4 linked regions of the Homo sapiens genome follow. The protein of the gene in region 4 interacts with the protein of the main gene of each other region in a biochemical or structural test. Each region holds a gene or a part of one and is shown on either strand. Other genes may lie near its edges. The genes, in order: PTPRU, PTPRF, PTPRD and OMG.

What was found.
Region 1: the proteins of OMG (region 4) and PTPRU form a complex in vitro, tested with the Homo sapiens proteins (one study listed by BioGRID).
Region 2: the proteins of OMG (region 4) and PTPRF form a complex in vitro, tested with the Homo sapiens proteins (one study listed by BioGRID).
Region 3: the proteins of OMG (region 4) and PTPRD form a complex in vitro, tested with the Homo sapiens proteins (one study listed by BioGRID).

Annotation. Positions count from the first base shown.
Region 1 is NC_000001.11:29,232,110-29,239,521, reverse strand, and holds the start of PTPRU (receptor-type tyrosine-protein phosphatase U isoform 1 precursor), read right to left. Parts: upstream 3,001-7,412; 5' UTR 2,878-3,000; coding exon 2,805-2,877; intron 1-2,804.
Region 2 is NC_000001.11:43,617,859-43,624,167, reverse strand, and holds the end of PTPRF (receptor-type tyrosine-protein phosphatase F isoform 1 precursor), read right to left. Parts: coding exon 6,257-6,309; intron 5,539-6,256; coding exon 5,419-5,538; intron 5,121-5,418; coding exon 4,966-5,120; intron 4,881-4,965; coding exon 4,595-4,880; intron 4,489-4,594; coding exon 4,310-4,488; intron 4,074-4,309; coding exon 3,947-4,073; intron 3,715-3,946; coding exon 3,589-3,714; intron 3,331-3,588; coding exon 3,176-3,330; intron 3,072-3,175; coding exon 2,936-3,071; intron 2,234-2,935; coding exon 2,165-2,233; 3' UTR 502-2,164; downstream 1-501. UniProt on the Homo sapiens protein: Possible cell adhesion receptor. It possesses an intrinsic protein tyrosine phosphatase activity (PTPase) and dephosphorylates EPHA2 regulating its activity.
Region 3 is NC_000009.12:8,516,990-8,524,014, forward strand, and holds part of PTPRD (receptor-type tyrosine-protein phosphatase delta isoform 1 precursor), read right to left. Parts: intron 6,536-7,025; coding exon 6,524-6,535; intron 4,558-6,523; coding exon 4,288-4,557; intron 1,441-4,287; coding exon 859-1,440; intron 1-858.
Region 4 is NC_000017.11:31,294,220-31,302,133, forward strand, and holds OMG (oligodendrocyte-myelin glycoprotein precursor), read right to left. Parts: upstream 3,021-7,914; 5' UTR 2,937-3,020; intron 2,119-2,936; 5' UTR 2,113-2,118; coding exon 790-2,112; 3' UTR 428-789; downstream 1-427. UniProt on the Homo sapiens protein: Cell adhesion molecule contributing to the interactive process required for myelination in the central nervous system.

The sequences.
Region 1 (7,412 bases), on a different chromosome or scaffold from region 4:
GCTGTCCAGGAGCTCAGCGTCCCCACCTCGGCCACTGTCACTGCTTCCTGCTAAGTCCCCTCCCCTAGCCCCAGGGAAAAGGGAGGGATGCCCAGACAAGCCTTTATTGCCCAACCTGAAACCACTGGGCAGCCACTCCCTCATTCCTGCCGTCCACAACTCCTGCGACCAAAAGGACAAAATAGCAAGAACACAGCAGAATAAATAACTACCAGGTTTGCAAGGCTGAGAAGGCATCACACACCGCCCCTACCCGGAAGCTCCGGAGCCATTCAGGGAGCTGGGCTGACTCTGTCCAGACTGGGGACAAGGGGTATCACATCTATTCTACTTGGGCTTCTGAGTTCATCTCTAAGAATAACAAAGGGGGCCAGGAACTTTACAAGTGAGGTGATTTGCCAGACATCACATGAATAGCAAGTAGCAGAGGCAGAATTTGACACCTAATACCCCAGCTTTAAATCACAGCCTCTGTCTGGGGCTTTGCAACAACTCTCAAATCCATTTTTTGTTCCCTGGCACTCACAGACAGAGCCTTACTTTACAAGGTACTTGGTATCTACCAAAAGTGCCATACACCATTATCATGATGGCTATGAGGCAGAAGAGGAAACTGAGGCATCAAGAATGGGAGTAACCTGCTCTAGGCCTCACTCCCAAACTTCAGTTCCTGACAGTCCTCCTGCTGGCAGGGCTTGGGGCTTGTGAGTGTTCTTGAAATCAAAGCGATGGTGGTAGGAGCGGGGATGGGGCGCATACAGAACCCCGCGGGTTTGATTTCACGGTGGGAGAGGGAGGCAAAGTTGCCGCAGGACATGGGGGAGAAGTTGGGGAGGATGGGGTGGGAGGTCGCCTTGGGCGTCCTTTCGGGAACGGGGAGGTCAAAGCTAAAGCTGTGCCCTATGGCCCCGGAGCTGCAGGGCGAGGCCCAAGCGCTGGCCAGTGGCCGGCGCGAACGCTGGAGCCACAGGAGTTCCGGCCCGAGACACCGGAGCCAGCAGCAGGGCCGCGAACGCGATGCCGGGGAGGTCAGTTGTCTGCGGCTGGCGACCGTGAGGAAGCGGCTCCGCTCCAGCACGTGTCTCGGCTCGGATCCCGCCCCGGGCGTCTCCCGGCTACCCGGAGCCCGCGGAGCAGCCCCGCCGGTGGCGAGGGCGGGGGAGGTCACCCGGAGCAGGGCCCCGAAACTCCGCGGGAAGGGGCCGCGGTCTAGGATCCCAGGCCTCAGGGTGGGATGTGGAACACGCGCACGCACACACATCCGACACACCGTCCACACTCCGACGAGCACACGGACACACAAACACAGGCTCCGTATACATACATTCAGCTGCGCGCACACACACACGCGCACGCACACCAAAGACACCAGACTCCGAAACACACCCGGAGAACGCGACCACACAGCAGACAAGCGCGGAGCCACACGCTCACACTCACGCTCACACTCAAGCACACACCTGGCGGTCCCGGCCGGCCGGGAGGCCGCACAAAGTTGCAGGCTCCACCAAGGGAGTGTCCCGGGAGGCCCGGGCGTCCCCCGCGCGTCCTGCGCGCCAAGGGAGGGGGCGCCGTCCCCCGGCGGCGAGCCAGGCCCTGCCCGCGCCCGGACGTCGCAGCCCAGCCCGGGGACAGCCCCCGCCCGGCCGCCCGGGGCGCAGCCGCGGCCCGGCCACCGCAGGAGCGCCCGCCGGTCCGGCCCTCCCCTGCCCGCCCGCCGGCCCCTCGCTGGGGCCCGCTGGCCCGGGCGCCCCGCAGCCCCGGCGCCGCCTCGGATCAGCCGCCCGCCAGCGCCGCGCGGAACTTGCGAAACAACAAACAGTCCGACATGCCCGAGGCGGCGGCCGCGGGGCCCGGTCCTCCCCTGAGCCTCGGGCCCTGCCCGACCCGGGCAGCCCAGGGGGCGCCGCCGCGACAACTTGTTCCGGCCCAGCGCGCCACACACGCGCACACGCACACGCGCGCACACACGTCCTGCCACCGCCCCCTCGGGCGGCCCCGGGACCAGGGCACACTCGCAGCCGCGGCCCAGGCGCGCTCCACACTCGCAACATTCCTGGACGCGCAGCCAGCACACACGGACACATTCGCACACACTCACATCCGTTCCAGACTCGCTCCCACACACGCATTCCCGGCACACTTGGCATTCACTCGGACCCACGCGGCCCCCGGCAGCACACACCACATACCCTAGACACTCCCCACACGTACACAGCGCACGGACACACACGTTCCGGACCCGTTCCCACGCCTTCACACATGTACACGGATCTCAAAAGCACACACGCCACACACGCGTTCCCGGATCCACACTCAGGCGGGATCCAGAGAGCACCCTTGGCCACAGGCATAACACAAACACACAACCCACTCGCAGACACAAAACAAACAGCACTCCCGGCCAGGCATACAAAATGCAAACAAATGCAACACATTAGCAGATACAACTCCCGCAACACAACCAAACTCAGATGCACACACAACCCACTTGGCCACACAAACACTACACACTGGCAGACCCACAAGACACTCAGCGCACACCCAATGCCTCGATGCACACAACATTCACCCCCAACATACTCGCCGACACACATCACCTTTTCTTGCGCACAGAACTCACGGACACACAACATTCGCAGTCACGCAACACCCCGGGCACACAATCGCCCATCCTACGCTCAGACACACACAGGGAGCACGCTCGTAACGCCCGGTCACTCAACACTCACACTTTCTTCCGAGCTACGCCACGGGCCCCGAGGCTCGGCGGGGCAGGCTCGGTCCGGCCGCCGCGCGCTTACCTGCCGGAGTCTCGGTCTCCGGCGCGCAGAGCTGGAAGGTGAGTGCCAGCACGAGCGCCTGGGCACGGGCCATGGTTGGAGCGTCGCCGCCCGTCCCGGGGCCCGGCGCGGGGGACGCCGCCCCCGGAGCCCGAGCCCAGCCCGAGGCGAGCCGGAGCCCGAGCCGGAGCGGAGCGGCGCGGCGCGGAGCGGGACTGGCGCCGAGTCCAGAGCGCGAGCCGGAGCAAGCGGGGCGCTGACGTCAGGCCCGGCCGCGGGTTCGGCGGTCTCGCGGCGCTCCCTGCTGGCCACGGCGGGTGCTGCAGCGGGTCCGGCCGCCCGCTAGCCCTGGCGCGCCCCTCCCCCGCTCCCGCATCCTCCCCGCCATGAGGCCCCGCGGCTGGGTCTGGACGCCCACGGACGTCTCCACGGACCGGGCACCAACACTGCCAGGCGAGCACGCTCATGGCCCACGCCTAGCTCCCGTACAGCGCTCTCAGGGACGGTGACCCAGGGACACCCGGCCTCTGTCCCATCCGATGCCTGAATCCCTTGTACCTTGGCGCCTTCAAATGCGTGTTCTACATACCTCCAGGAACAGGGCGCTCATCACCTGGCCAAGAGCGGTTGTTGGGGCTTTGGAAACGCCGGCTTTTAGAAAGTTTTTCATTTCATGACGTGCAAGTCTACCTCCCTCACTAGCCCTCACTGGTCCTACTCTACCTTCTGGCTACACAGGTTAAATGTATTTGGGCCTCTACCCAGAACGAGCCCTCGCACTATGATCTGCAAACTCGTTGCTCATTACTATGTAAGACCAGGTACCTTCTATGTGTTTAACCCACATGGACTCATTTAATCATCATATATTAGGTATGCAATAATTATACTGCATAAATACTGTTATGCAACAGTATTTGACAGCACCGAGATTTGAATCAAAGTTGTTTGGTTTGAATTGAATAGGGGCTGAGACCTTCCTCCCATCTGGACACCTATTCATTCAACAAATATTTATTGGGGTCTATTCATTTATTCAACAATTACTATAGGCCAGGGTAGAGATATAAAACAGACAAAAATTCCCTACTCTCATGGACCTTACATTCCAGTGGGAAGACAAGAACAGTAAACAACCAAAAAAACAAAAACAAAAAAGCAAACCCTCTGGTGTACGTCCTTTATCACTGTCTCATACACCAGGAAATTTGGGGGTGGTGGGGGGACAGGGAAGGGAAGGGGAATTGTTGCAATTTCAAATAGAGTGCGGGCTATATGATGAGTTCATTATCTGTCTCCACCTCTAGAAATGAGCTCCCTTGGGAAAAGACTCATCTTGTATTTCCGTGCCCAGTATATGGCATGTTTTTATTATTTTATTTTATTTTATTTTATTTCAAGATGGAGTTTCACTCTTGTTGCCCAGGCTGGAGTGCAATGGCGCAGTCTTGGCTCATTGCAACCTCTGCCTCCCAGGCTCCAACAATTCTCCTGGCTCAGCCTCCCAAGTAACTGGGATTACAGGTGCCCACCACCACGCCCGGCTAATTTTCGTATTTTTAGTAGAGACAGGGTTTCACCATGTTGGCCAGGCTGGTCTGGAACTCCTGACCTCAGGTGATCCACCTGCCTCAGTCTCCCAATGTGCAGGGATTACAGGCGTGAGCCACCGCGCCCGGCCTCTGGCACGTAATTGATGCTCAATAAATACTGACTGGATGGAATGAATGAAAGGGAAATGGTCCTAGCCTTCATGAATCTTACATTCTATTAGGAGAGCCCAACAGCAAACATGTACATAAATATATCATTACCATCTAAGATATGCAAGCTAAAGGAAACGAGGGAGTATAATGATAAAGAACATAGGGAAGGGGCATCTCCTTTAGATAAGTGGTCCAAGAGGGCTTTGCTATAGAAGTGACATGGTGACATTTGAACTGAGACCTGAAGTATGAGAAGGAGCCAACCTCATGCAAATCAGTGGAGAGGAACATTGCAGTCAGAGGGGACAGCCTGTGCAAAGGCAGGAGCTGGTGGGTACAAGCAGCTGCAAGGAAGCCGGGCAGCTGGCATGGAGTGAGTCAGGGGCAGAAGGGAGCCAGGTGCAGCTAGACAAGTCAGCAGGGTCTGTAGGTCAGGCAAGAAACTATGAGCAAGGAAGGGGCTTGAGGTTCAACCCTAAGAGTAATTAATGGGAGGCCACTGAAGTGGAGTAATTAAGCAGAGGAGTAATAAGGAGTAATAAGTTCTGATCTCTGGGTTTTTTTTTTTTTGTTTTTTTTTTTTTACAGCTCCAGCTATAAAGACTGCTGAAGTAGGGAAAGCCATGGGCAGATGGGTCTGACCACTGGGCAGTGACACTGAACAAAGCGTAGGAGTTCAAGGTATATGTAGGCCCTCCCTGTGCCCTGCCCCTCCTAGCTGGCTTCATGCTGAGATGGACACACCTTGAAGCTGCCCTGGGGCTGGAGGAGGTATCGCTGGGTTGAGAGTTCCTGGGCTCTTGGTCTCCTCTCTTGTGAGAGCTGATGAGCTCCACACTGAGTTAGGAAAGGGACCAAAAGACACAGCAGGCAAGAATTAGACACAGATAATTAAATAGGGAGAGGGAGGCAGAAGCAAGAAGAAACCAAGGGGAAACCTTAGGGAAGAAACTAAGATACAGAGACGCTGGAGCAGAGAGGAGCCAGAGAGGCCCACCCAGAAAAGGAAACTCAAGGAGAGAAAACCAGTGAACAGAAGAAACAACCAAGGGTGCTGTTTGCAGAGGGCTCTTGAGAGAGCCTCAAAATAGGAGTTTTACCAGTGATCCCATTTTACGGGTGTGGAAACTGAGGTTCAGAGAGCATATGACACTTGCCTAAGGTGACACAGCTAGTAAATAGACGGCGGGCCCTAGATTTGAACCCAGATCTGACTGATTCCACATCCCTTTGCCCTTTGTGCAGGGGAAGATGGCAGAGACTATAATGGAGGGAGAAAGAGAACACAAGCAACAGGTAGACAGATGAGAAGAGGACTTTCTGCTTTACTTTTAAAAGACCACAAACTTCAGCCGGGCACAGTGGTTCACACCTGTAATCCCAGCATTTTGGGAGGCAGAGGCGAGGTCAGGAGTTTGAGACCAGCCTGACTAACATGGTGAAACCCTGTCTCTACTAAAAAAAAAAAAAATACAAAAATTAGCCAGACGTAGTTGCGGGCACCTGTAATCCCAGCTACTCAGGAGGCTGAGGCAGGAGAATTGCTTGAACCTGGGAGGCGGAGGTTGCAGTGAGCCAAGATCGCGCCATTGCACTCCAGCCTGGGCAACGAGCAAAACTCTGTCTCAAAAAAAAAAAAAAAAAAAAAAAAAGACCACAGACTTCTATAATCCTTGAGAGAAGAAGGAAGAAGGAAATTCCTGGCCTGGAGTGACCAGCCCAAATCTAGGGAAAAGGAGATGGCACCACAGACCGTTCTAGGCCATGAGGAAATTCAATTACCTGCAACTCATGGAATATTTATGACACCTACCCTGTGCCAGGCTCATATCGGGTGCTGGTGTTATGGAGATAAACCAAACATGGCTCCAGTCTTGCCTGGAGGGGAATAAATAAGAGACGATGTACTAAAGGCCATAACACAGCTCCAGGGAAAACACAAAGGCAGCAGCAGATGACCTAGGGAGTTTTGAAACATCAAAGAAATGACATCTGAACCTGGAGTTTCCGAGGCAGGGAACAGCATTTCAGGCAGAAGGAGTGGCCTGAATAAAGGCACAAGACACACTGGGGAAGACGGGTATCAGATGCAGCTGGATCACAGGCTATGCACGGTCCAACAGGAGAAGATGAAGCTGGAAATGCAGTGTGGGAGTCAGAGTGCAAAGAATCTTGAATGCAAGTCCAGGAAATTGGACTTGAACCCCTCAGTCAGTAGTTCTCAAACTATGCCCCTGCAAGAACCCAGATGGCCTAGACTAAAAGTGAGGGCTATTGGGATGCACAGGAGGCTAAAGTCCAGCCCCAAGGAGGAGGACTTGCTGGATGATTCTTCAGGCTTCCTGACTGGGCTCCCCAGAAATTCAGAGGAGCCAATTTGGTGAAGAAGAGAATGTCGACATCTCAATGTCACCTAGGGAGTCTTACAACAGAAGGTTACGTTGTACTTCCCAGTTCAAGTAAGCCTATGTGTCACTGGGGAAAAGGGTAAGCAGGACTGGTCATCGTGTGTGTGCTGGCACATAAATGTGGGGCCAAGCCTTTCCCCCACCATGGGACACCAACTTTCTCTAATAATAAAAACAAGTACAGACATTTAGTGAGCACATACTATAAGCCAGACCCTAGTCTGAGGGTTTTATGTGTGATATTTCTCATTTAATCACAATAACCCCCGATAATATTTATCAAATGCTTCCATGTGCCAAGCATTGTACTAAATGCTTCAAGTGGATAATATCTCACTTGACCCTCACAACAATCTTGAAACAGATAACTAGTATTCCTTCCATTTTAAGAGTAAGAAAGTGAAGACACAGAGAGGCCTGGTGACTTGTCCGAAATCAAATGGCTGGAAAATGGCAGAGCTAGGACATAAAGCCAGGTTTGTCCAAATCTAGCTCACAGTACTTTGCTGTGCTCT
Region 2 (6,309 bases), on a different chromosome or scaffold from region 4:
CACCAGTGGAGCAGCTGCACAGCTCAGTGGGTGATGCAGCTGTGTGTCCAGGGGCCAGATGGACACACTGTTTTTTGTGTCCATTATCCACATTGCAATAATTACAGGAGATCTCACTAACCAATTTCCATACATTCAGTCTCTACTGCCACAGGGCCATCCCTCTCCTCCAAGGTAGTGGGAGAGGGGCAGTCCCAATGCCCCGATAGTGCAACCCACAGAATCTTAAAGGGAAAGAGAGGCAAAGGGTATGCTCCCCGGCCTAGGGTGCTCTTCACATGCACTGGTGGCTCTGGCCTGGCTGGCTCTTGGTGGCCTGGTTTTCAGGGTTTATAACCACTCCTTTCTGAAAGTGGGTAGCCATGCCAGGAGCCTACACTGGCACAAATACTTAGGGTACCCTCCCCGTCTCCTCAGGAGCAGGGAATCTCCAGAACCCATCCTAGCTACTGATTTGGCCCAGACTCTTTGGTTCCAGAAACAGCTGAGACAGAGTCCTGGTTTGTAAGAAATCTGATTATTCAAATTTATTACCATCAAGAATTATGCAATGATGCTGTAGTTTTTCTTAACAAATAGAAAACAGACTGTGTACAACAGTGAACTCTACAGCACTAGCATCCACAAGGTAAAAATGAATGTTTCATCATCCAACATTACCAACCCTGGAATGTTGATCTTGACTTAGCCTAGCTAGGTTTGGGGACGTCGGCACCACGTCCCTCAGCTAAAACAGCTATGCACCCTTCCCCGCCCCCACTTACCTATCTAGATAGCGCTGCCCAGAGGAAGAGGCGCTCTCCCTGCCCCTCAGCAAGCTGGGATAATAAGGACTGATTAGAGTACCATTGATAGAAGTCCAGTAGTCTTGCCACATTGGTTTATGAGGGCATCTTGGAGTGGAAAAGAGCGATTATCGGGGGCTTTGAAAACAGCTGCAAACCAGGGAGGAAAATCATCTGGCCCCTGCTCTGAGGACAGACATGTGCTACCAGGCCCACTGGCCTGGACCTGAAAGGCCAGCCACGCCCCCGCTTGGCCCTGAGGTGCATGGGGTGTGGCACACACCCTAACCTGTGCTATTCACCTTGGCCACACAGCCAGACCCCACAGCCTACAAACACCACACCATACTGCAATGCTGGGGACCAAAGCCAGGCTCTGTGGGCCCAGGTCAGCCAGCAGCTCCCTCGGGAACCCCAGGCACACGGAGTTGCTTCCCCTCTTGAGGGTTTGAAGCAGAAGCCAAGGGCTGACTCTTTTTTTTTTTCTTGGGTTTTTTGTTTTTTTTGTTTTTTATTTTTGTGGTTTTTTGTTTTTGTTTTAACCTTTGCAAACACGATGGTGATGAGGAATGCCTTGCCAGGCTCTCCCAGACACATCTGTGGTTCTGGGCTGTGAATGTTAAACACACACTGGGATAGACGACCAGGGATGAGTGTTCCCTATCTTCTCCCCGCCCACCACTGTCAATGTGGCCTAAAAAAAGGCTTTAAAGGGAAAACAAAACTTAAAAAAACATTGAGTTTCCCTGCATTTAGCTGAAACAGGATCTCGTCTGAAGGGCTGGAGGAGCAGCCGGATCAGCACTGCCTCCCGGCCCACGGCCGAGCCTCCGCTCAGGCTGGCAGCCCCAGCTCTGCACGAGGAAGGCAATGTTCTGTCCTTCAGCAGAAGTCATACAAAATAAGGATCCAAAGTGAACTCAAGAAAAAAAAAAACAAAACAAAATAAACCCCAACCCCTACAGTGGCCCATTCTGCAGATACGGATTCGCGAAAGGAAAAATCAGAGGGAAGAGGCTAAAATCCCTCAGTCTACCCCACTTAATGTATTAAAAAGGAGGCTTTGCCCCAACCCCACCCCATGAGAAGAAGCATGAGAAATGCGGGAGCGCAACAGAGAGCTTGAAGCGGGCTCCAGGTGGGTCTGGTGGACAGAAGGGCCACAGTGCCTGCCTGCTGGGCCATCCACTTGCCCAGGGATGTTCTAGGCTCTCTGATTGGTGTGGCAACGTTCCTGAAACGCTGTGATCCCCGTGGGCTGTGCTCTGCCAGTGACAGCATCTGCGTAGGAGGGCTGGACGATGGTCGGTATGGCTCAGAGGAGCTGGGTCCCCTCCGGAGCCCCACGGCGGGGGTGGCGGAGGAGAGGGGAGCGGTAGTTACGTTGCATAGTGGTCAAAGCTGCCGAGGTACTCCAGGGCCGCACGGTAGCACAGCTGATACTGGTCCTGCCAGGATAGGGGGCTGGTCAGTGTGGGTCGCGCCAGTGGACACCCCCACTACACAGCTGACACTCACACTGCAGCCATGGAGTTAGCCTCTGCTGGCCAAGAGCAGGTGCTGGACCCTGGCAGCTACATCAGGCAGTGTGCGGGGGAGCCTGAAAGAGCCTCTGAAGGCTCATCTCTCTCCTGTCATTCTCTCAGGCCCCCACATCTACCTGCCTTCCATCTGCCATCCCAATCATGTTTCTCTGCTCCTGACTGGGCACCCCATAAGGATTGCTCTGTGCAACCTTGCCCAGAGCCAGGCACACCACTGGGGCTCAGCAGAGAGCTGCCGAATGAAAGAACACATCTTACTCATCAATCCCCTGAGCCCCCAGGCAGCACAGGCAATGTTGCAGCATTTTTGTTTTGTTTTGTTTTGTTTTCAGCAACAGGGTCTTGCTCTGCCACCCAGGCTGGAGTGCCGTGGTATAATCATAGCTCACTGCAGCCTCGAACTTCTGACCTCAAGTGATTCTCCCACATCAACCTCCCAAGTAGGTAGGACCATAAGCACACACCACCATGCCTATCGCAGGCCACGTGAAAGGTTGGCAGCATGAATGAATGCACATGCCTGTGGGCATCAAACTGTTGCTAAAGCCTAGGGTTCCCAGCAGCGCTGCTGCCAAGGCCCTGGCCCTGCAGCCTGGTCTGCGTTACCTCTGTCTGCACCATGGCAGGACGCTGTGTACGCAGGGTCTTCACGGTCTGAAACATGTCGACCACGCCCTCGTAGCGCATGCGCTCCAGGACGATGCTCAGAGTGATGAACACCCCGGTGCGGCCCACGCCAGCACTGCTCAGAAACACAGTTGGGTCAGGAGTCCTGCTTGCCTCATGCAGTGGGTCTGCCAGGCCTTCAGGCCCACCCACCCCAGCCCTCCAGGGGGCCAGTCCCACCTGCAGTGCACCGTGATAGGCCCATCCTGTCCAAACTGCTCCTTGGTCTTATGCACCTGCCCGATGAAGTCAATGAATCCCTCGCCTGTCTTGGGCACGCCCTGCTCTGGCCAGTCTGTGAACTGGAACTGCCGGATTGTCCTTGACTGCCCATCCTGGGAAAGGTGGGTGGGGTACATGATTAGAATTCGTGCCTTAGGCAGCCACCCCTCTGGACTAGACCAGGGTAGTACCATGATACAGGCATGCATCTGTGTCACTGCACCCGAGGCCACAGGGGGAGATGTGCTCACACCCTAATACCCACCCACCGCCTCAGATTTCTGAAGCTTGAGCTAAGGTACCATGCAGGCAGCCATCCACCCAGCGTGTGGACAGGCAGCGTTATGGACACACTCAATGCACTCACTCACCCGGGCATCCGTGACCTTGAACTCACGCAGGATATACTGGGGCATGTTGTACTCAGCCATCGGGTCAACAACAAAGTACTGGTAGCGAGCAGAGCGCTCTGCTGGCCAGTACTGGTGGCATTTCTCCTGTGGACAGAGGGTCGGGCCCCCATAATCAGGTGAGAAGGAATAGGGGAGGGGTGCCAGGCTTCACAGGATTCTGGGACAGATGCCTCAGGTAGTAATAACGGGCGCCTGAGGCCATGCTGACAAGCAGCTGGGGTGTCAAAGGAGACAGTAACATAGGCGGCAGCTCCCCCAAGGGTGGCTGGTGTTCTCCCAGGTATGACAGGGGCCCTGGGGGAAAGGGTGGGCTCACCCTGCCCATCTCCCGAAGCTTGGTCAGCATGACGATGATGGTGGAATTGTGCTCCCATAGCATGCGCCAGAAGTCCTCGGTGCTCTCTGCCAGAGGCCCCTGTGTAGCTATGTAGGCCTTCTGCTGTCTGGGGTGGACATAAGACTGGACATGCTGGAGGTGCTGCTGCCCCTAGAGTCTCCCCTTAGGCTGCCTAGCCCCTTGGGGCCCTGCTCAGATCACCCCTCCTCCAGGAAGTCCTCACTGCTCTACCCAGCCCTCTCTGGTCTTCTAGGCTGGCCCTACTCTGCTGCCCACCCCCACCAGCCAGGCACAGGCCTAGGCCCCTGTAGGGCATGGTGGGGCAGTGACATGCATGCTGACCTATAACCATCCAGGAAGCTGGCATTGATGTAGTCAGAGCCCTCCACACCACGGATGGGCTGCAGACACACACGGGTCAATTCGTAGGGCATGATGTTCACCAGCCGGTTCTTGAACTTGTTGCAGGGCAGGTTGGCGCTGATGAAGCGGGACGTGTGGGCCTTGGAGCTGGCCAGCAACTATTGAGAGGCAGGGATTGGTCAGGCCAGGCTTCCTGTGGGGGTGGGGGTCATCTGCATGACCCAGTCTAGGCCCTGGAGCCAAGCAGGCCCACCCGAGCCCCACCTTGAACTCGAGCTCCATGGCGGTCACACTCTCCCCTGGAGGCACTTGGCCCAGCTTCTGGATGTGGGCATACAGGTTGCGGGCAGGCACCTCTGTGTGGCCGCACGTGGCAGCCTCCAGCAGCGCCTCATGGATGAACACGTACTGGTCCTCCGTCTGCACCATGTAGTTCCTCTGTGATCGCATGCAGGTCACGTGGCCATAGATGTCCACCGTCTTCTCGTGCTTCATCCGCTCCAACATGGCATCAATCACGATGAAGCAGCCGGTGCGGCCCACGCCCGCGCTGCAGGACACGGGCTCAGCTTGAGGCACAGGCGCCCCCACCTCCCACCCCACCCACCCCTCTGGGTGGCACTGTACCCTCTCACCTGCAGTGCACCACCATGGGCCCTGCGTCTAGGGGGTTGCAGGCCTTGACCCGTCGTAGGAAGGCCAGGATGGGAGTTGGGTACTCAGGAACTCCATGGTCTGGCCAGGCCATGAACTGAAACTGACGCAGCTCGCGCTTCTCACTGGAGCCACTCTGGGGGACAAAGTGGGGACATACTGGCGACTAGGAGCCTACCTGCCATAGACTCAGGACTGAATGACCTGATGCTGAGGCCATACCCGCCACTTCCCCATGGGACTCAGAAGCCACACAGAGTAGCCTGAAGCTCCTAGCACTGTTCCCATAACATGGATCATCACATCACTCACACACCTGAGCCTCCGACCCTCCAACACCCAGGCTCCAGCTTCCCCCCGACCCAGCACACCACACCCAGGCCACTGTCCTTACAGTGTCTGGGTAAGAGATATGCACTGGGGAAAGGCTATACCTTGTGGAGTGCGAAGGTGCGCACAGTGTATGTGGCCAGCTCCACTGTGTCCAACAGGGTCACCTGAATAAGGCCACAGGTCTCGGTGCCACGGGCTGGCCAGTACTGATCACATTTTACCTGCAGGAGGATGAGCAGGGCAGGCTGAAGGAAGCCCACAGGCTCAGACGGGCAGAAGCAGGGTGGAGGCTGGTCAACTCCCTGGCTGTAGCCTTTCTGGCTACAAAGCCCCCCAGCCCTGAGCTCTCAGATCCATTGCCCCCTGTCCTCCACAAGCCACATCAGGTCCTCAAGCTATGTCACCGCCCTGCCCTAGCTAGTGGAATAAGGGTCATAATTGAAAATTATTTATTCAACGCCAGATCGCACCAGGCACATTTTCTGCCAAATTTACCCATAACGTTTATGTGCCATTTTCAAGCTCTGTAAATTTTACGTTCCAGTCAATGCTTTGCAGTCCAAAAACAGATAACAGCAGCTCTTTCCACTAATTAACTTAGGAGATGTGTTAATGCCCCAGGAACACTCCAGCATCTGGGGAACACATGAATACCCCGGGAACACGCCAGCAACTGGGGAACACATTAACATTCTCCGAAAATGACAGCATTTGGTGAAACATATTAACATCTTAAGGAACCCACTAGCATGTGGGGAACATGCTGTATCCCAGAAACACCCAGTATTTGGGGAGCATAATACCCCCAGTAACAATAGCATCTGGGGATCACTTGAGCGACTTCCTCCACAGAAGAAAGCGGCACAGAAGAAGGTGCCCTGTATCACCTTGTGGCTGGGCATTTCCCACCCGCCTCCTGGCAGGGCCCTGCAGCCTCACCCGGGACTTCTCCTCCAGCCGTGTCATCATGACCACAGTGGCCGTGCGCTGTT
Region 3 (7,025 bases), on a different chromosome or scaffold from region 4:
TTAATAGAGATGAGGTTTTGCCATTGGCCAGGCTGGTCTCAAAGTCCTGACCCTCAAGTGATCCACCTACCTCCCAAAAGTGTTGGGATTACAGGCGTGAGCCACTGTGCGTGGCTCAAGAATAAACTTTAGAAGAGGCCTGTTATTTTATATTAGCCCAAAGCCAAACTGATCACCTTGACTCAAAGACCAAAGAGGTTTGATAACCTCTTAGAAAAATAAAACCACTGGGAGGGCCAAGTTTTCCTTCATAAAATAGTCTAATGTCTGCTGTAGCTCTTAGCAAAGTTAATCAATCAGGCCCAATGTTCTATCTGAGATCTCGGTAACTGTCTCTCTTTATCCACTGAGGCCATACAGAGAAAAACAGAAATTAAAGCCACTCAGAGAATACTTATTTTCAAGCCAGTAGCTTCTGGCAAATATAAGCCATTTAAATACCCAAGGCCCTGTAACAGTTTTATTTTTTAGCTTTGTCTTGAACCATCCAATCTTACACAAATTAAATACTCTTTTGAGACCACTCTACCATACTAGCTATTACAAAGAAGTGTCGTTTTTCTATTCTCAAAACTGGGCATGGGGGAGACATTGTTCTATCTCACATAGAGAAGTCTTCAAGTCATTCCCATACAAATTAAAAAGAAGGGGTGTTAATGCATTGTTCTGCTCAAAATGATTAGTTTTTCAGATGTCCATGCTTGTTCCTTTTCAGATATCTATCATCTGTTGCTTTGAAGCCCTAAATCTCAAAAATTAAAATTCATACCATCTTTGTTCCTTCTTTGTTTTTGTCCTTCTCACCTCTTTGCACCAGCCCTTCCCTCCTGCCCTATTTCCCTCCTCAACCAAACTTACCTCCTGTCTGAGTGATGACTTGTATGTCACTTGAAAGGGGACCATCTCCAATTGAGGTAAAAGCCAGGACTTTGACAGAATATGTTTTCTGGGGCACTAAGTTGCCAATAGTAGTGATTTGGCTGTCAGCTACATTGTGTTTCATCCAGTTGTTGACATGTTGAGTGGGATCCATTGTATAATAAACTCTATATCCTTGGATCTGTCCATTTGGCTCTTCAGGTTCCTTCCACTGTACCAAAATGGTGGTCGAACTCAACATTCGTGCCTGGACATCCCTCGGGGCACTGGATGGTGCTTGCTCTGAGGTTTGTGTTAGCACAGGTTCGCTGGGAGGCCCCCGCCCAATGTTATTGACAGCAACAACCCTGAATTCATAATCCGAGTAGGGACTTAGTCCAGCGACACTGTAGCGTGTGGTCGCCACCCCATCAATTTCTTTGTAAAGTTCCTCAGAGTTTTTAGGTTTATGCTGAATTATGTAATAAGAAACAGGCTCAGGGTTCCCAGAGTCCCACGTCAGTGTGATGCTTGTAGCTGTGCTCTCGGTCACTACAGGAGTTCCTGGAGGTTTGGGTAAGGCTTGGATGGGGGAAGATAAAAGACAATGACTACCCATCATCCCTATAATATTTCAAAAATCTATAAACTCTACTATGAAAATGACAGGATTATGTATCTACTGAAGATTTAATTAAATGAAATTATAGCAAAGAGTAGTTTTCTGAATGGCCAAGAAGGACAGGAAAACATTCATAGGTGACACAAATCCTGCTTTCCTAGAAGGGCTTGATAGCATATTTTTAGGCTTGTATCCAAATCCTCTACTTATTAGCTAAGTGATCCTGCACGCATTTCTTAACCTCTCTTTGCTTTAGTTTCCTCATGTGGAAATGGGAAAAATATTATTATTTAAGTCATATTATACAGCTGTATGTAACTGTATTTCATGGGTTTGCTGTGAAGACTAATGAGCCAATCCACTAAGATTCTTAGAATGTAACTGGAACCCACAAAAAAACCTTAGTATTAGCTGCAGTTATTACTATTATTATACCAAAAGCTTGGCCAATTAGCCCCTTGCCCCAATAAATAAATGGTATAACTGAAATACCGATAAACATTGAAAAGAACAAAATGTGGAATACATTGAAATGAAATTAAATTGCGATGAAACAATAACATCTATATTCTGGTAAGACACAATACCATTACTAAAAATTTTCTTGTAAATGAAAAACCAAAAATTTTAAGGTGCAAAAGAATAGAAATTTCAAATCAATGCTTTATTCTTAATATTTAAAAATTGCTGAAGGAAGTAAATTAAGGCACATTCACCAATCACTTTTTAAGGTATGTTATGGTCATATTAATATGCATTCTATATTCCACATCAGAAATATCCAATGTAGCTACATGACAAATATTTGCAATAAAATCCATCTTTTTAGAGGTCTAATTCTTTCTTTTTAGCAGAAGAATACAAATCAAAATACTACTAATTAAAAATATAAACTGTCTGCTTTGCTGACCTCATATTCAAGTGCCTTATTCTAAACAATGATTCTGAAACGCAGTGCTATTAGGGTAGGAAGGGGCATTCTAATAGTTGACTCTTTAGAGAAATCTCAAAGGGTAACATTCATATAATCAGCCCATTAGTGTCCCTGTTTCCTTGCCAACATAAAGGCAAGAAGTATAACACCCCCTAGAATGGCAGCTTTTCAAGAGCAGCAAACTTGTACTTCTGACTTACTGTAAAATTGTGAATGCCTAGAATGCTGCCTGGCACTCGGTAGGTTTTTAATGAGAATCGTTAAACAGTTAACTGAATAAATGAGTCAGCACCCATTCACCTCATTCTCTTCAACCTGTTCTTTTGTTTTGATTTATTTTAATTTGCCATTAAGATTCACTCTTATGTTTTATTTGTTTATTTTTGAGGTGGAAAAGACAGGGAAGTGGCAAGAGTCAGGAAAACAAAGATGAGAAGGTGAACAAAATATTAGTTTAAAGTGGCCCCTGCTTTTGAATTCTTAAAGGTCTTCAGCAAGCCTTCAAATATTTAAAGCTGAAATGGTAATTATAAAAAAGGTGATTCAATATTTACACACTACTCAAAGAACTACAGAATGATAGTATTTTGTCAAGGGAATTTACTGAAAATAATAATAAAATGAAATTTGTTTAAATATTCTGACCTGGCATTTTTCAAGGCTGTGTGTGCTCCAGATTTCCCCTACATGTCTTTCTGAACTTTCAAAGCAAATACAAATATTGCTAATTAAAGCTGTGCTCACTGATATTTAGCTGACATTATTAGTTTCACTAAGTCACATTTATTGTACAGTACAGGTTTTATGTCTGTAATGTACGGATAAATACATGTGTGCTTATTATATTAAGGTTACACAATATAACATTATTTCACGATTGTAAATGTTGACAATGTGTACCTTTGTTCTCATGTCATTAGTTTTATATAGCATATATTTGATATATACGCTTGGTTAGAGATGCGATACCAATTATAACGTGTATTGCATTTTCTAAGATCACCCCCTAGAATGGCAGCTTTTCAAGAGTAGCAAACTTGTACTTCTTACTTGCTGCTGAATTCCAAATGCCTACAACATTGCCTAGGAAAAGAAGATAATTTGTGTTCATTTTGCAATAGTTCTAGCCATCTGCAGAAAACTTAAGTTGCCCTATGTCTGACTCAATTTGCAAACACTTTCTAGAATTCTATAAACACTAGGGGAAAAAAAAACGGTACCCTTACATGCTTGTACTCTTTCTCTTTAGTTCAAAAATATTCATGTAATATAGTACTTTGGTTATATTTAGTCTGTTTTTTAAAGGAAAGAATATTCCTTGAGCACTCATCTATGCAAGGTGAAAGATAAAACTACAACAGAATATACTCTTACTTGCCTTTTGATTTTTAATAGTAGGGCTCACCAAAAAGTTAAATCATCTATTACTAGACTATGTTGATTTCAACTTTTTTTTTCTTCTTTTTCCTTTGTATTTAGAAATTTTAAGCATTTATTAATGCTCATATTGACTTTTCTTGGGGTTCTTATCAAGGTTCTGGTCTAGTATGTAGACTGTACACATCAGTCCCACCATAATGGTCGACCATGTGTAAAATTCCTAGTTCTGTCTGGTTAGTGCCTGGGCCTCCATGGACTGTCTTTTAATATTCTGATGATTATCTCTACATAGGCTGCCAGATACTTCCAAGAAAAAATCCGCCTATCTAGGCTTATGCATGTTATATAATACCACAGATATGATTAGGTTATACACACATTTAAAATGCTGAATAATGAATTATTTTAGATTTTCAAGGATGGGCTTTCTAGAGGCATTAGTCACTTGGCTTGAGTGTACCCAGATCCTCAAAGCATAATCCATTGAGCATACCTTTGACAGTGATCTGTGCTATTGCTTCAATGACACCCAGTGTTGACATAGCAACACAGGTGTAATTTGCTGACTGTCTTACATCATTCAGTTCTAGCACATTTCTTCCTATTGGCATATCATCTTCAGGTGTCAGATCTTCTGCCCCCAACATCCACTTTACATAAGGCATTGGTGACCCCACGGCCACACAGGTGATATTAACGCTTCCGCCTGGCATGATTTCATGATTAGTGGGTGGGATAGAGAATCTTGGTGGGACACGGCGAACTGGAACAAAACACAAGGGAAATGATAACATATACAAGGCAAGAAAAAGTGGATTATTAAACACATGACATGCACCGTACAGACACGATTCAACAATTGAAACATTGTGGATTGTCCAAAAACAAAACATAAAGAAAAACTGTGGATAATACAGACCATACAAGTATGGTGTGTGTATACACAGAATTATTTATTTAGTTTAGTCATTGATATCTTAGACACACTAATACAAAAGTTGATTCAGACCTACAAGGGCCCCACAAAAAACTATCTACAAACTAACAATACACAAACATCATGCATAAGATAAACACAAAAACATATACATGCAGGCATATAACAATGATTCTATGCAGGCATGTATATGCAGAAAAGGGGGCTGGAAGGTCACCAGCATGTTTAAGTTGAGTATCAAAACCAACTTCAGTGCTGTGCACTTCCAGTTGATGTGAATGTAGGTGTGGGACCACACTGTCACATCCCAGCCCTGGAAAACATCACCTAGAGTACACTGAAAGTGCACTTTATGTTTTCAGATTCATAGTGGATGCAGCCTCAAGACCTCACACTAACACTGGAACAAACACAGAAATGTATATACATATTGATTTACAGTCACAGAAGAAGAAACAGGCTAACACCAGTAGAGATACTGGATTGGGTCATGCAAGGCATGCACAAGATGGAATCTCAAGGCCCGTGCTAAGGATATTGAAAGAATGGCTGGAATCCAAGACAGCAATGACCGCAGAAGAAATAAGGGGGCAATAGAAATAAACGTGAAAGGGGGAGGTAAAGTATAACGATTGAAACACAGGGACTTAGGGGATGACAGGGTTGAAAGACAGAAGATTAAGCTCAAGTTGTTAAAGGTAAGGATTGCAAATTCAGAAAGGGAGCTGGGTGTTTCACATACAGGATTCCATTCAATTCATATCAAAGGTAAAACAACATAAATGACAACAAAATCTTTTAAAAGGCTTTTTATGCCCACATTCAAATTGAGGGACACTGGATCTAAAACATACAGCAGGACATGACATTAAGAGAAGAGATCATATTAAAGCAACATAACACAGAAAAATTACCAAGCAATTTCAGTTCAGTGTTCCTGCTTCAGATAATCTGCAGGTTTATGTGTGTTTAAGTAAATGTGTTTTGGATGTGATACAAGGAGAAAGTGAAAGATAAATTGGTTTCATCTGGGGCTTTTACTGGCAAAATGTCATACCATAAGAATTTGAGATCTAGAGGGTAATCTTTAGGGAGCACACCTTAAATACATTTAATAAAGATTTTTTAAAAATTATAAATAAACTGATAAGTAACCTCATAACCCCAAGAAGAAGATAAGTAATTCTGTCTGAAAACTTTTTGGCTGCTCTTAAGGTCGAGATAAACCTCCGCTTATTTGAGATGGCTCACTGCAATGGCCTCATGGGTGAATGACAGTCATAGGAGAAGAAGAGAAAGCTAAGCATGCCTCCTGCAGCCAATTCACAGAGGTTACACAAAGCAAGCAGGAGCCAGTGTAGACTCTGAGGTATCAAAGAACATATCAAGAAAAATGGAGGAGAGTTTAGTCTTCATGCTTGGGATTAGGGGAGAAACTAGAAAAAGTCATTCTATGGGCAGCAGGCATCCTTATAAGACAGAAATTAAAGGCAGGGTGGGAGATGGGGACAGTGGAGCAGGAAGGAAAGCAGGAACACTGACCAAGTTCACTGGACCTTACAGAGTTAAGTGTTACCAGTTACCATGCACCCAGGTACATTCTCTCCCACCATGCACCACAGTTAGATACCACCAGCAAGCACCAGAAGCCATGGCCAGGGCATTCTCTGCTAAAACATACCATTAACCAAAAGAAGAACACAATGCAGCTACATTCATTTCATTTGTATTCTTTGTTATTGGTTTAATTAATAGTTTTGTAAGGTGGGTAAAAAGTAAAAAACACACCAACCTTCTCGCAGCTCTGAGGGATGTAGGGGGTTTGATGCAGAACACAATGAAATGAGGAAAGGAGAAAAACAAGGGAAACACAGAGAGAGTAAAAAGGCCATATCAAGGCTTTCAACTGCTACTTGAACATCTTTATTCGCTCTAGTTCATCCTTCCTATCTCAGCTGGAAAAGTTAGCAATATCTCACAGACTAACATGGTATTAGAAACAATAGCTAGCATCATTTTGAAATTTTCCATGGAAGAAGGTACACATGCCTCATGCAGCAAGGGAGGTCACTATTGTGGAAAAAGGATCAAGGGACTTTCGAAGAATTTAGAGAAGAAATGACTTTCTTCATATTTCCCCACCCCAGACTCCATAAAAAAAGAAAGGAGAGAAAAACATCCCCAGGGAAACAAAATTACCTCTAACAAAAATTTCAAAATCAAGCTAGGTATTTTCTTAAGGGAACCCATCCTATTGTAACTTAAAGCCCTCTCAGTCTTTTCTTTAATCCCAC
Region 4 (7,914 bases):
TAATGGTGTGTTAAATCTGCACTAAAACTGCTTCTTTACATGTTTTTAAATTTTTTCATTATGTTTTTAACACTTTTCTTACATGCAAAAAACACAACCGTTAAACTTTTCTTATTAAAATGCAAAGCCTAGTGTCTTCTAGCTTTTTGAAGAGCTTTTGTCCATTATATAATCTGTCAAGTAGCCAAGAGTTCCTCAGAAGCAGGACATCATTTAGATTTAAAACAATTATGGCTTGTCTGTAAAATAATGTTGTAGCATAACCATTCATGGGATGGCAGCTACGATTTTACTTCAGTAAAATATCCTTGGATACTACCGCCATTTTATTTACCTTAAAGATTTTACCAAGGTACCCTAGAACAAAAATGGTGAGGTCATTTTGATTCTGCTAAAGTTGGTATGACTGGAAAGCCAAATGACACAGTTATGAGCATAGACCTTTTATTTTCCAGATGTTTGACAGTGTAAACATACATAAAATACATATTAAAGTTTAGATGCTTTATATTTTGTGCAATAAATTGAAGCCTTAAAACATTTCATTTTTTTTATAAAAGAAACTCATTAGTTTACTTAATTAAGACAGTAAAATAGCAGCAAGTACCAAGACATTGTGCATTTCTTTTATTTAAGACAAGTTACTTCATTTACATCAGAGTTAGAAATGTTAAGACTGGCTTTCTTGAATACTTAAATATAGCTCGAATCACTGGTTAGATATGGACATATTTTCCCAACTGTACATCAGGGAGGAGTGCTTTCATTAGTTTCAGAAAATGCAGACCCTCAGACAGCCAGCATGACCACAACATTGAGCAATAAGAGAAATGAAGCATTTACTTTCCAAGCATTTGCCACAGAAGGTAATGGAGTCTTTACATTTGTGGTTGTCTCTTCCCTCCATAAGTTAAGGGTTGTGCTTTGTTGAGGCATTTCAGAGAAATTATTTGGCATGCCACTAGTGATACTTAGGGTCATGGGTGTTGGGGATGATTTTGTTGAGCTAGTGAGGCTTGTGTTTGTGACCATTCCATCTTGGAGATGAATAGTTAGAGTTGCAGCTGCTGCTTCATGTGAATTGATAGTCTCTGTGGATGTATCTTCTGGATAGGGCACAAAAGCCTTATCAGTGCTAGTAAAGGTGGTGTCTTTGCTTAGAGTGGCACCAAACGTTGTTTCCTTTGTTCGATATTGTTTGGGTATTTTGGTCACTTTGGGTTGAGTTACCACACTCAGAGAGTTAATGGTGTCCACTGTCTGCATCCCACTTACAGTGAATAAGCTTGAGGTAAATCCAGAAGGTGTGGGATACATGTTATGTTCCTTTAAAGATGATATTTGGGTAGAACATGGAGTCCCTATCACATGGGCTTTTGTTTCCATCATCCACTTCAGTAAGTAAGTAATGTTTTGTTTGTGGTCACATGACCACCTGTTATTGTAAAGGGTTATCTCTTGCAACTGAAAGAGTTGGTCAAAAGATTGGTCTGGAATGAATGTGAACTTATTGTTGTGCAGGTAAAGATGTGTGAGATTTGTCAGGTTTATTAATGTACCTGGAAGAATTTGTGTCAAAGAATTATTAGACAGGTCCACGATATGTAGTTTGGAGGGCATGTTGGTTGGAACTGTCCAAAGTTTGTTACTACTGAGGTTGAGAACCTCGAGACTTCTTAGTGTATTTTTAATGAGGACAACCTTTTCCAGCATGTTCTTAGAAACATCCAGATATTTAAGATTCCACTGATAAGCAGTATCAGATTTGTCAAGAAGTTTAATGTTGTTGTTAGCAGCAGACATGTTCCACAGAGACCGAGGTAAGTGAGCAGGCAGGCTTTCAAGCCTGTTGTTTGAAATGTCCAGGGTCCTCAGATTGGTATATTGGGTTAACTGGTTATGCAGATCAGTAAAGTGGTTATAAGACAGGTTTAAATGTATAATATTCTCTTGCAGTCCAGATGGTAATGTAGACAAGTTTCTGCCTGAACAGTCCACATGCCTGTGCCTCTCTGTGCATATACATTGGAGAGGACAAATGCATAAAATACCAGGTGTGAGAAACAGAAGGATGAACAGGCAGAGAGACATTTTCAATATCTGATATTCCATCAAAGCCTAGAAACAAACAGATACACCCTTCTTTTAATATGCAAATACAGTTTAGGCATCTGCATGGGTCAGTTAGCATTAGGCAAAATTTTCAATAAACCTCGTTGTTGTCGAGTCCTTTTATAATTGTTCCAGTGATTAAACTAACAAAGCTCCCCTTCATTTATAGTCCAAATGCTTAATCCTTCAATTGGGCTATGTGGTAGAGAGAGACTCTCTCCCTACTCTCTCCTGCATTTTCTCCTTTATTTTCTCTCTCCCTCCCCCCTTTTCTAACCATATTCTTTCTTATTTATCTTTCTAGAGCCTTAATATGATAAAATAGCATTCTTTGCAAATAAATAGTTGCAGTTGTAGGCTATTACTATTTTTGATGATATGCTTTCTTACTCAGATGAGAAAAAATGGCTGTCGTGTCTTTTTTTTTTAATCTCTGCAGTAATGTAATTCAATGTGTGTATATAGGGTAGATTTTATTTAGATATTAAAGCAGTTCTTCGAAATTTTATCTGTATGTTTTTAGGATAAATATATCTTTGTAAAAAGCACTTGAAAAATCCAGACCAACACAGTACCTATAAACCTCACATTTTATAAAGTGATTTTTTTCTGTATATTTCAGTGCCCATTTTAAAGGAAAACAATATGTATATTTACAGAGTGACTGAATGTATAAAAAATATCCCTCAACTGACACTGCAGCAAATTTCTGGTGCATGCACTTGCTATTGAATATATATTTAATCCTAACGTTGACTTTTTCTTAAAAGAAAAAGGAAAAAGATTCCAAAGTCAGCCTTTTACTGATTTAAATAACATCTTACCGTGGTGTCGTCTTCAACATCAGCATCTCATTTTCTCTGGGAAACTTAAAGGTCGTCTTGTTCTGTAGAGTCGGAACTGTTTCTGGCTGTGGGCTGTGCTTGCCTGCTCAGCTGCATTGTGTTGCTGTGAGCTGAAGCTCTGCAACCACCTGATCAGTACCACATAGGAGGACTGCAGAGCTGTCGCTGGTGCTGACTCAAATTTATGGCAAGAGGTGCACACGCAACAAAATGGACAATTTTTTAAAAAATTTGTGGCATCAAGCGTACCTATATATCTGATTTGCTATAGGATGGGATACCTTATGCATGAGAGTTGGCCCTTACTCCTTTCTATGTATTTGTCTGAGATTGGGTTCCATATTTTAACATTTGCCTCATTAAGAATCTGTGAATTTTTAAAATACCTCTACTCTTTATCCTTTTTACATGTTGAAAATAAATTTGACCTTCCTCATGGATAGTTTTCTATGATATTAGTCCCACTATTTTTTAACTCCTGCCTTTTTATATTCCTTTCTAAAATTGTATAATTTTCATGTCACTTTTTTAATATTATAAAAAATCTGTTTTATGACTTTTATGTCTTCCCCCAACATGGTGATTATTATGTTTAATCAGCTTTTCAAATTTATCAACCACTTAAGTGTTCCGTCTTCCCTTTTAGGATGTATAGAAGTACTGAAATACGATTATTTTTTCTTTATCTTTCTGATACAATGATCATTTGACCAAGGCTACACACAAGCCAGGATACATTTGGAAATTAGCATCTTATACTTCAGATTATCAGTTCCTATGTAAAATAAACATGTTTTATTTTATATATTTGGAGTTAAAGTTTTTTTTCTTTATGCAACCTTGGGTGGTAAGTGGATATGAGTATTGTTTTTTCCAAAGACATTTTTGGTGCTGTATGAATGACCATTTATTTGATTTTATGTTTTAAGAATAGCAGTATCAATTTAGGTGATTTCAGAGTGTTGCACATTTCATCTTTCTGGGAAAGTAGTTTATAGTTTTAAAATTACATGAAATGATATAAAAGGAAAATTTTTCATCATGAGTTTTATAAAGTGAGATCAGATTTATGATAAATTTTGCTCCACTCTTCAGTGGACTGCTTGTGTAAATCTGTTAAAACACAAATCTGATTTCCAGAATGGCAAGTTTAAAGAAAGCAAATAAAGTTACGGTATTTTCGTTACCAAGTGGCACCATTTAAAAACGAGTAATATTTAGCATGTTATGTGTAAGGAAAGTCTCTTTATGCCTTGTTACTAAATCGTTTGTTTTTCTCTAAATTATATTAGCATTATTTAGATTATACCACAAATAGAATTTGTTGTATTAAAATTTGAAGTTTATTTTCTTACAAGAGAAACTATACTCTAGGAGCCACCTTTTGTATAAAACTAATGTTCCTCGAAAAGTATCTGCATTTTAAGAGTCCGCAACATAGAAGTTTATTGTTGATTGGGTGCTTTATTGCCACTTTACTTTGAGGGTTCAGTTGAACTCTCAATTGGATTCTTACTGTGGATTTAGGAAACCAGCCATCAATCATAGTGCTTAAAATAATGTGTTAAAAATACTACATTCAGCAATATTGTGGAAATAGGGAATGCATTGACATTTAGAGTTCTATTTAAGCTCATATATACACTGCTGCACTTCTAAAGATGTGACTGAGGGTCAATTTACCGACCACTTAAATCTCTTAATTTTAGGAAACCTCATTAAGTCAGTGTAGAAGTAGAGTTATGCATTTTCATTACACTTAACAGTACTTTTGTTTGAAAGAAAAGACATGTTACTTCATTAATGGATTCAAATGAATTTGGGTTTAGGCTGTATCAAGTTTAGTTTCTGTTGTATATAATAGAAAATTCCAGTGCAATAGTAGTGGCAATGTTTCTCATTTCAAGTTTGGGACATACCAAATTGCTTCATATTATTCAAAGATTATTGTAAAATTCTCAAAAAGAAAAAGGGAGATCATTTCAATATATTTGAATTCTAACAATCTCTTACACTGGGTGCAGCACACCAGCATGGCACATGTATACATATGTAACTAACCTGCACGTTGTGCACATGTACCCTAAAACTTAAAGTATAATAAAAATAAATAAATAAATAAAAGAAATTCTCATGAAATAAAATAATACTGTATTACTGTTACTCAAAAAAAATATTTTTTAGAGGCATAAGTATGTGTTACAACTTATTTTAAATATTATTCAGACTCATTACATTTTCTATTAGGCTGTCTAGGTCAGTAATGATAGTTAGGCAACTTTTACATTCTAGATTAAGCAGTAAATTAATTTACGTATTCTTTTGTGTCCTAGGATATATTACCCCAACATTGTGAAAGGTATCACAAAGCATCTGCCAAGGAATAGCTATCCCACGCTAATCAGTGGTTTCAGTTTTCCATTATTATAGGTAACATTTGCTATGCTTGAGAGTCAGATATTGTTTATTTTTGGTAATATGGTTGGCTATTTAGACTGATTTTCCTGCTGAATACAACTGAGAGTACTCAATAAAGTACTTTAAAAGCATGAAAGAAATAACAACATAGAAATTACCAAGTCAAAATCCAAATGAATCAGTTTCTTTGCCCACCTCCCTACTCCTTTTTTTCTTTATGCCACTGGCTTGTTGCCAAAACTCAGTCAATTATTTCCTAAAATGTCTCTCATCTTGGAGTTTTCTCTTTGACTCTTTGGGAAGATTTAATTTGTTCTTCTGTCCCCCATATTTTCTATAAGTGATTCCTCATATCATTGACATAATTGCTCATTTGCATCATCTCACAATAATTTCAAAATAATACCAGTATTGATTGCTACAATTAGATTATAGACTACCGAATAAAGTTTAAAATTTGTTTGTAGCTCTGCTTGCTTTATTTTACTAAAAGTGTATAGTAAATTCTGTGTTCTAATGCAATGTGAAATAATTCTTTTCTGTGTATTTTTATATCACCAACTTGATATAAACTTTGTTTCAGTTTTCAGCTTTTCAGGATCACAAGTCAAAATTATATATATAACAATGTATATTCAGATAAATCTTGCTTCTCTGTCTTTTCCATCCTATTTCCTTCCTTCTGCTATTAGTAACTGTTTTTATTAGTTTTTCGTTGTATCATTAACATTTCTTTTTGAAAACCTAAAAAAAATGTAAGCATATGTATGGTATGTTCTTATCCCCCCTTCTAATATAAAAGGTGACATATATACATACTGTTAGATAACTTGTTCTTCTTTTCTTACTGTATCTTGAGTATCACTCCATATCAGTATATAGGTATCTGTATGATTCACTGTTTGATCCATAGTACTCCATTTGGGAATGTACCATGGCTTATTCAACCAGTCCCCTATTGGTGGACATCTGGGTTTTTCAGACTTTTGCTGTTACGAATAATGCCACAGTGAATACCCTTGTACCTAAATAATTTTATATGTTTGCCAGTAAATCTTTGAAAAAGATTCCTAGAAGTAGGATTGCTGGGTAAAAGGGTAAATGCATTTGGAATTTTTCCAGACATTACTAAATTCCTCTCCATTGATTATACCATTTTGCAGTCCCACCAACAGTGTATCATGGTGTCGAGTTCTATACAGCCTCACTGTATACTTTGTTGTTGAACTTTGGGATTTATTGTCCATCTGATAGGCAAGTATCTCCATCTAATTTTAAATGCATCTCTGTAATTATGAGGGGGAGTATATGTCTTTACATATGTTTAAAGACCATTTAAATGTTTTCTCCTGTAACTGTCTTTTTAATGTTTTGCACTATTAAAAGTTGTGTTTTGGGTCTTCCCCTTCCTGCCCCATATTAGGAGCATTTTAAATTTTAGAGGTATTAGCACTTTGTCTTGATTTAAGTTTTAATTTTTTTTTCCAGTTTGCCATTTGTCTTTTGGCTTTATTATGGTGAGGTGTGTGTGTCTGTGTGTAATGCGCACTTGCATGTGTGTGATATTTAAAAGTTTCATATAATTTGATTTCCCTTTTTATTGCCTCTGGATTTTGAGTCTCAGCTAGGAAGGTTTTTTCCCGCTTCCAGATTATAAAGGAATTTACTCATATTTTCTTCTATTACTTGTATAATTTCATGGTTTATATTTAGAACTCTGGTCCTTGGTGTTCCAATATAGTGTGAAGTATGGATCAAATTTTTTCTTTTTTCCAGATGTCTATCCAATTGTTCCAATGCTTGTTTCCACTGATTTGATATTTATTTCTGGACTTTTTCTTCTGTTCCATTGATCTGTTTGTTTAGTCATATACCGGTACCACAGTGTTTTAGTTATAGGTTCCCAAAGGTGCTACTTTACTTTTTGATCAGAATTCAGTAAGAACAACAGTTAAAGATCACCCTCATCTAATTCATTTGTGTCCCTCACCACTGACACCAAATAGAAGACTTATGTGATATATGTATGTTTCAGTGCATGATGTAGGTGCTCTTTGGTCCTATATTAGTGAAAAGAGTGTTGAACCAATAGTCAGGGAGCAAACTCAGCTTTTAATACCACTTCTAAGCACATCACTTACTTTCTCTGGTCCTGTTTTCTCAGTAGTTAACAAACAAAAGGAGTTGAACCAAATGGTCTTCAGGGTTGTGTCTGACTCTGGTTAATGCTATTTTGGTTAAGAGCACCACTAGTATGTGGTGTGAACTTTAATCTACCTTTTATTCCCCTGTGCCTTATTCTTTTGCAGTATTCATGAAATAAACTTTCTCTTCTGGATCTTAGTTCTTTAATCTTTTCTCTAAAAGATTTTTCTTTGTTCCAGCATTTTCTTCTGTCCTGCATTTATTAGTTTGTATCTCTTCCTGCTGATTAAGCAAGGATTGCCACTGTTTGGCTGCTCAGCTTCCACTGACCTCACTGGGGAAAATTACATGCAGTTAAATGTGAATTATTCTTCCCCCAGCAAAGAATTTCTTT